Linked DNA regions of Homo sapiens: all the other regions are linked to region 1. Evidence: fine-mapped expression QTL. A gene starts in region 1. Each other region holds a variant in brackets. All regions are shown on one strand. Distances are from middle to middle.

Evidence for each region.
Region 2: its variant is fine-mapped to the expression of ODF2L in monocytes after LPS (Fairfax 2014, PIP 0.95).
Region 3: its variant is fine-mapped to the expression of ODF2L in CD4 T cells (Kasela 2017, PIP 0.95).

The regions. Positions count from the first base shown.
Region 1 is chr1:86,395,030-86,397,795 of GRCh38, forward strand. ODF2L (outer dense fiber of sperm tails 2 like) reads right to left here and starts at 1,294. Exons shown (of 17, transcript NM_001366781.1): 1 at 1,004-1,294. RefSeq lists an enhancer at 1,219-1,268.
Region 2 is chr1:86,437,722-86,440,487 of GRCh38, forward strand. CLCA2 (chloride channel accessory 2) reads left to right here. Exons shown (of 14, transcript NM_006536.7): 7 at 1,155-1,385; 8 at 2,427-2,604. Among named protein-coding and RNA genes, the nearest start is that of CLCA2, 15 kb to the left of the region's middle. The variant C/T (reference allele first, on the strand shown) is at 1,649.
Region 3 is chr1:86,444,770-86,447,535 of GRCh38, forward strand. It overlaps CLCA2 (chloride channel accessory 2), which reads left to right. Exons shown (of 14, transcript NM_006536.7): 11 at 2,739-2,766. Among named protein-coding and RNA genes, the nearest start is that of CLCA2, 22 kb to the left of the region's middle. The variant CT/C (reference allele first, on the strand shown) is at 1,447.

The DNA of each region.
Region 1 (2,766 bases):
AGACGGGGTTTCACCGTGTTGGCCAGGATGGTCTCGATCTCCTAACCTCGTGATCCGCCCGCCTCGGCCTCCCAAAGTGCTGGGATTACAGGCGTGAGCCACCGCGCCCGGCCCGGTTTGTTTCTTTAACCTTAACTCAGTTGCACTTAAAACTCCAAGAACCTCATTCATTCAAAAACACTTGAAACCGTACTATGCGTTGCGTGATGAGGAAACTGTCTTCGAAATAGATTTTATCCCCAACAGCAGCCCCAGTATGGTTATTCTCAGTAAACAACAAGCACCACCACTCACTAACCACCTACATTCGGTGCCACCTTAATGGCCCTGCGTTTACTTAATCTCGTATTACAACCACCCCAAAGTGATGATTACTGTTACAGTTATCAGTAAGGAATCCAGGAAGGTTCAGTGACCTAGACAAGGCCACACAGCGGGTTCAGTGGCAGAGCTGGGACTGAACACAAGTCGGCCTTTAGCACTCTCCACGACCCTAGGTCAATCCCGCACTACAGGGGTCGCCTATAGGGGCTGGAACCTAGAGGAATCCTGGAGAAGGAATTATTTCCTGAGGATTCCTGTAATATACCTCACTTACGAAGCCCCCAGGGCTTCCTACAATCTGATATATCACATGATGGGCGATTAAAAACCAGCCCAATGATTAAGAGGTCACTATTTCTGAAAGAAATGCAACCATATCCAGGAACGGCCCGGTCAGGACTTCGTTCTGCACAAGCCCACCTCACGCTAACATTTGCCCTGATGTCCCGGGGACCACACCCTTCCTAAGAGTGAGTCTCGCCGCCCTTTTCCCAGGCCAGGTAGTCAGCCTGAGGGAGGTGGAGGGTTTGCGCGGAGGGGGCTGGGTGGGCGCGAGGGCCTTTTACTTCCGGGACCCACCACTGCCCTCACCTCCAGACCGCTAAGGGCTCCCGCGGTAAACGCCCAGCAGCAGCTAGGCTCCCCACAAAGTCGCCCCCAACCCAAAAGGCGTACTTACGCCCCCGCCGCTGCGTCCGCACGTCGTCGTGACGACAGCCCGCCGTCGCCGCGATATAAAAAAAGGGTCAGAGGCGCCACGGCTGCTGCAATGGAAACCGTGGCAATCCTTCTTGTGCTCTGAGTCGGCTAGGAGGGAGCGGGACGCAGGGGGCACTACAGTGGGTAGACTAGGAAGGAAGGCAAGGGACGCGAGGTGGGAACCAGGCGAATTCCTAGACCTGCTTGCCGCAGAAGAGTGCCCGCTCAAGTGGAACAAAAGCGCAGCTAGTAACCGGCTAGTGGCTTCTCTGGCAACGGCGGCCCCACCCCTCCCGTCAGGCCCGCAGCAGGCTGCCGATTGGTCCGGGTTAGGGACGGCGGGCAGCGCCTATAGCTATTGGAGAGGGTGAGGAACGGGGCAGGGAGGGCAGCTTCGTGTCTATCCTTGTTTCTCGGGTAAACATTTTTTTTTAAGCGTTTGTTTATGGACAAGGACAGCATTTGTGTACGTTACCGAAAATCATAACCGAGCCCAACTAGAAAAAAAGGAAATAAAGCCAATTCCGAGTTTTCTGGCGCTTGGCCTGGTTGTGCCCTGCTTTTGCTTTTTAAAGAGAAGATTTGAAAACGTGAAGGCAACTGCGACCGGAAGAAACCTCCTTTTAAATGTATAGTAGTATTTTTAGCTGAGATGCCTCCCTGGGCCTCAGGTTTTTTCCTGTTAAATGAGGAAGCCTGAGGATGTTCTGCAAGGTGCCTTCAGGGTCTCAAAGTCTTTCGTATCTGTGCCACAGCCAGCTGGTCTGGTTTATAAAGTCCTGAAGAAGCAAAGCAAGATTTTAATTGGAAAAATATCTTCATTCAATGCCTCTACTTAATATTCATGTTAAGAATCGTACACCAACCTATGAAGTTCACAAGTAGAGTAACTGTCAACTAAGCCATAACCGTGGCATGCTGCTACCTAAATAATTGGTTTCACTAAAGCACTCCAGCAATGTTTTTCCACCAGTACTGTAATTGTCCCTTTCATAATTTAAAGCGGGAGACAGAATTAGTAAATTTTTTAGTAAAGGGCCAGTGATATGGTTAGGCTCTGAGTCCCCGACCACATCCCATCTTGAATTGTAATCCCCATAATCCCCACGTGTCAAGAGAGAAACCAGGTGAAGGTAATTGAATCATGGGGGCAGTTCCATAATCCCCACGTGTCAAGAGAGAGACCAGATGAAGGTAATGGAATCATGGGGGCCGTTTACCCCCATGCTAGTGAGTTCTCAAGCTATCTGATGGTTTTGTAAGGGGCTCTTTCCCCTCCACTGGGCACTTCTCCTTAACGAAGAAGGTGTCCTGCTTCCCCTTCACCTTCCGTCATGATTGTAAGTTTCCTGAGGCCTCCCCAGCGACGCTGAACTGTGAGTCAATTAAACCCCTTTCCTTTATAAATTACCCAGTCTCAGGCAATTCTTTATAGCAGTATGAAAATGTGCTCATACAGCCAGATAATATTTTATTAATAGGTTTTGCAGGTCATATGGTCTCTGTGATACTATTTAACTCTGCCATTGTCTTACCAAGAAAAGCCATAGATGATACATAAACATAAACATATGAGCTCACTAAAGTACGTTTGTGTGCAGGATGCAACACTACAGTGTTGGGTAGAAATTGTGATTTCTATCTTCATGGCAACAAATGGGGACTAGAATGTAAAAATAGCAGGCAATGAAATAGAATAAAGATACTTGAATACAAATAATACTTCAAAATTAAAAAGCAACA
Region 2 (2,766 bases), 43 kb after region 1:
CAAGAATATGGAGGCTGGTAACAGAAATGGTAAGAGAGTCCTGGGTTGCTGGCTTAGCTAGCTGGGAGTAGAGATCAAGATTGGGAGTGATGATCTGATGACCATGAAGATGGCAATAGCTATTCTATTGTGAGTGCTTACTCAGTATCCATTTTGCAGATGAGAAAACTGAAGCTAAAAAAAAAAAGTAATTTTACTATGATCACATAATTAGCAAAAGTTGAAGGCAGAGTTCTAAGTCCTTGTTTTACCCCCTTTACAACTTACTTCCCAATATTGTAAGAGAAACAGTATTAGAATTCAAAGTGTAGAGTTGCCATCTTCATGGTTGTCAAATCATCACTCCCAACTAGTTAAGCCAGAAACCTGTGTCCTAAGAAGTGTGAAATGCAGGTCTAGATCCACCCAGGAAGATGCTTGAGTTGGAGATAGAGATCAGTGTCATCCCTGAGTGGGTGGTCATTGAAGCTCAGCTTGCTGCTCCTCTCTTTTCCCAGAGCTTTCAAAACAAGTTACCCTAGTGAATTAATCAATAGCATCACCTGCCCAAAACTGGTCACTAATATTACTTTACACCTGGTTAGCCCTTCATGGTATAACTGTACTGCCATATATGTATCTCACTTGATCCTCATGGCAATTCTAATTTCATAAACAAGAAAGCTATCATCCTCACTCTACAGATGAAGTACCCAGCCTAAGGTGACCACAATAGCAGAGGGTAGTGCCGGGGCAGATCATGGGTCCTCTGACTGCCACTCCTCTCTAGCAAAGGTCTCTTTGCAATGTTTTCTTTTACCTGGACTGCATTTTTAAAACAGCAGTTACAAATTTCGTCTCAGCTGGGTTCATGAATCTTTGAATTCTAAGTTGGAGTGAAATAGTGGGGATGATGAGAAACAGAGAGTGGTAAATTATGAGCATCTTGTTGGAGGCAGAGCCCCAAGCCACTCCCTCTTCCCTGAAAGCATGCATTTTTGAGCCTGCAATTAATCAAACAATATTCTAATATTATGTTACTCTTTAAAGCTCAAAAAATTATGATCCAACATCTCTAAAGAATTAGCAGAGATGTTTGCTAATTGAGTTACTTCATCATACTTTTGTCTACTAACCAAATGTTGCCATTTTCTTTTTTCCTTTTTGGGACATAGGCTGACAGACTCCTTCAACTACAACAAGCCGCAGAATTTTATTTGATGCAGATTGTTGAAATTCATACCTTCGTGGGCATTGCCAGTTTCGACAGCAAAGGAGAGATCAGAGCCCAGCTACACCAAATTAACAGCAATGATGATCGAAAGTTGCTGGTTTCATATCTGCCCACCACTGTATCAGCTAAAACAGACATCAGCATTTGTTCAGGGCTTAAGAAAGGATTTGAGGTACAGTAGAGCATCCTAAGCCTTGGATCACCATCATTTTCCTTTCCCTCTTTTAGTATACGAGGTTTCCTCTGATGATGGGCAGTTTGTTACAGGGTGGTCATAACAGCCTCAACTATGAAAGTAATGATGGATTATCTTTCAAGTCAGGAACCATGCCTTATTCACCATTGTACTCCTTGTGCCTAGCAAAGTACATAGCATACAATAGTTGCTTAATAAATACTTGTTGACAGAATAAGAAAATAAATGAATACAATGGA[C/T]GAGACTAGAGGACCTAAACAACATCTGGGCATTTTCTAAACTGTTCCTAGCCATTCTGGGCCATTTTTACCTTTCAATTTTCTTGTCAAAATCAGCATGTCTAGCTTCTGTCTATAGTCATTCTAGACTTCACGCACATCAGAACCAATTAAGGCAACACATCACAATTAAGGCCAGAAGTGTGTTTCAGGAATGACAGAGTTTATTTAAATCAACACAAGTTTGCATTCAGCATCTGGGATGCTTATCTGATAGCAAACAAGACACATCAGCTATGGTTTTTGCTGCCCATGGTCTAAACCTTGGCTATCTATTGAAATCACCTGGGGATTAAAAAAAATACTAATGTGTGAGTCTAACCCCCAGAGATTCTGATTTAATTGATCTGGGATGTGACCTGACCATTAAAATTGTTTAAGTCTCCACATTTGATTCTAACGTGTAGCCAAGACTGAGAACCACTGCTCTAGGTGGTCACTTACTGGATCTCAGAGGCAAGCCTCTCACACAATAATGTATTCCACATCTTCTATGATGGATACAGTTCTAAACTATGGGGACACCTTGATGATTCAAGCAGGAAAAGTCCCTGCTCACAAGCAAACTGGCAGTGGAATGTAGGGTGACAAGTGCTGTGATGGGGTGAGGTAAAACTTGAGTGGAGATGGGCGTGGGGTGTAGGAGCTACAGTGGGAATTTGGATGAGAGTGAATTCTTTTGCTCAATAAAACAATTTGAACTACACTTCCTTCCAAGTGACTAATTCTCTATGTTCAGGTGGTTGAAAAACTGAATGGAAAAGCTTATGGCTCTGTGATGATATTAGTGACCAGCGGAGATGATAAGCTTCTTGGCAATTGCTTACCCACTGTGCTCAGCAGTGGTTCAACAATTCACTCCATTGCCCTGGGTTCATCTGCAGCCCCAAATCTGGAGGAATTATCACGTCTTACAGGTAATAAACTTTTAAAAACTTATCTTTTGGAGCATGTCCCTTTAACTTGACTATCCAAGACACAACTATGAAACTCATTATATGGCTTAATTGAAAATACAGAAATTGTTTTTAAAAAACGCACACACATATTGCTAGAATCTGTCAAAATTTTGCTGATTT
Region 3 (2,766 bases), 50 kb after region 1:
GAAAGTGAAAGGGAACCACTGATGGTTCTAAGGAGAACTGTAAGTTGATCAGATTCACTCTTGCACTGCCTGAATTCAGTGCCTCCTCACATGCTGCCCCACCCCCACTTTTGTTGTTGTTGTTGTTGTTGTTGTTGTTGTTGTTGAGATGGAGTCTCGCTCTGTCACCCAGGCGGGAGTGCAGTGGCACCATCTCAGCTCACTGCAACCTTCACCTCCCAGGTTCAAGCGATTCTCCTGCCTCAGCCTCCCGAGTAGCTGGGACTACAGGCACTTGCCACCATGCCTGGCTAATTTTTGTATTTTTTGGTAGAGATGAGGTTTCACCATGTTGGCCAGGCTGTTCTCAAACTCCTGACCTCAAGTGATCTGCCTGCCTCTGCCTCCTGAAGTGCTGGGATTGCAGGCATGAGCCACCGCTCCCACCACCTTCTTGACAGCCCCTTAACTAGCCTTCTTGACTCTGAACTGCCATCCCTCCAGTCCATTCTTTACCTCTATAAAAGCGATCCTTCTGAAGCACAAATCAGTCTGTCTTTTGTTCAAAACCTCCTTGGTGGTTTCAGAATAAAATCCAAGTGTTAACCTTTTTTTTTTTTTTTTTTTTTTTTTAGCTTAGAAGATTCGCATTTATTCCAGATGGGAGGCTGAATCTCTCAGTTGTAGATTTTGACACATTGGCACTATTTTTGTTTCTGATTTATTGCCTTGGCCATAAGGTCAAAGGCAACAATAAAGTGTACTTTCATTAATATCACCATGGACTTTCGAGTATTAATATGACAAGAAAAGACAACTATTCATTTTTTTTAAGGGGATTGGACACACAAACTTCAGGAGGGAAGAATCCCCTCTCCCATGGTAGAATCCTCTATCTTGATAAAATGGTTGCTTTATTGGTCAGATTTTGGACTTGGATCGTCTTTGTTATAATATTAATAGTACAGAGCATGTAAGATTTTCTGCATTCATTTGAAATTCCTAATACCAACCATCTTTTAATTTATAAAAAAATGAGGGAAACTTATAATAAAACAAAAAATACTACCCTCACAGACGATTAATAGCATGCAATCTATGAAATATTACACACATTAAAAGTCTCCAATTACTGTGTGCCTGGCTCATCACACAGTATCCTTCCAAGACGATCTATAGAATTCAAAACTGTACAAAAATTTTAAAATATGCAGAAAACCCAAAAGGTATTTTGTAAAACAAAGATCACACACACATTAGTACTAAATAGGGAAAAAAAATCAGCAGACCCATGGACTCCCCCTGCTCCCAACTGCAGGTCTTCAGTATAGAGGATTTCACCAGTGTCTTCTGCACTCCCCCAATCCAGTAGGGGTCCAACAGACCAGCTGCATTCCTCCTGACTGCCACCAACTCTGTTTTCTGCATAGTTGTCTTCTCTGCTTCTGTAGTGGTGAGCTGTGGGAA[CT/C]TTTTTTTTTTTTTTTTTTTTTTGATGGAGTCTCGCTCTGTCACCAGGCCCAAGTGGTAAATCTTACATACCAGACCCTTCATGTTTTGGCTTCTACCCAAGCTTCTCTCTTAACTTCTTCGATGCTCTGCTCCTATTGAACTTTTCTCCAAATTCATCATGTTCTTTTCACACCTGTGTATAAGGGCCAGGGACACTTTACCTACTTCTTGCTCCCCTTGCCTGACCTCTTGGTCTGGATTAGATGCCCTGTATCAAAACATTTATTACACTCAGAGAACTTTTTGATGTGGAAGTTCCTGCCATGCATCTGTCACTAATGTTATGATTCAAAAAACAAAAACAAAAAAACATAGTCCTTGAATCATAACTTAATGGAAAATAGTGAAGCTCATGAATCCCAATGAAGAAAGATGGCTAGGGTGTGGTGCATCTGAACTCTCCACCCTGAGTTACGCTTCAACCCCTTGCTTTTCTGTTCTTCCTTCTGCTTTGTTGTGTTTCACTTGTTACTTCTGGGGGTTTGATAAGGAGCAGCAGCAGAAGTCAGGGAAAAGCAATATATGTATAGCTTAATCAAAAGGACGAATTTCTGCTATATTGTAATTTTAGTCTTTTTCTTTCAGATTTTCTTTTGTAGGTTTTTCCCAGGCAGATAGGCAAGAGTAGTGTTTAGCAGTATTTCTATAAATTACCCAAATTAGATATTGTATAATCCTGACCTATTAAAAATAGTAGGTCCTTTTCTTGGTCCCTAGTAGTGTATGTGTTTTTTGTTGATTGAGATTTCTGAGTGTGGAGTTTTTGGGAAGTGGAGTGAAAGAAGGATGTTGTTGCCTTTTTAGTCCACGGTGTCCACATAAATTATAATGGTCCAATTAATTTGATGTAATTTTCTCAGTTATGAAAAGAAATGAAAAACATTTAAACGCCTTTTTGGGGAAGGGGCTCAGATTAATATCTGTAAAGTACTTTGAAGCTGGACACTATTATTGTTATGTTCTAAAAATGGGAATCAAGATGTATCCTCCCTCACTCCAAATAAATTCGAGGTGTAATTCCCTAAAGAATTATCTAGAAATAAAGGTGACTTATGCTATGAAAGCCATGTAAATACAAATTTATTCATCCCTTAACCAATGCTACTTTTCCTGGCATCTTTTTGTAGTATTTTAAAAAGTGCAACATCAACAAAACAAGAGCAAAATTCTCCAGAAGTTTTGATGTATGCTTTAAAATTAGGGTTGATTTTTTTTTCACACTTTCCAAAACAATAAGACTTGTTTTACAGCCTGGGCACTGGACTTACACCCTGAACA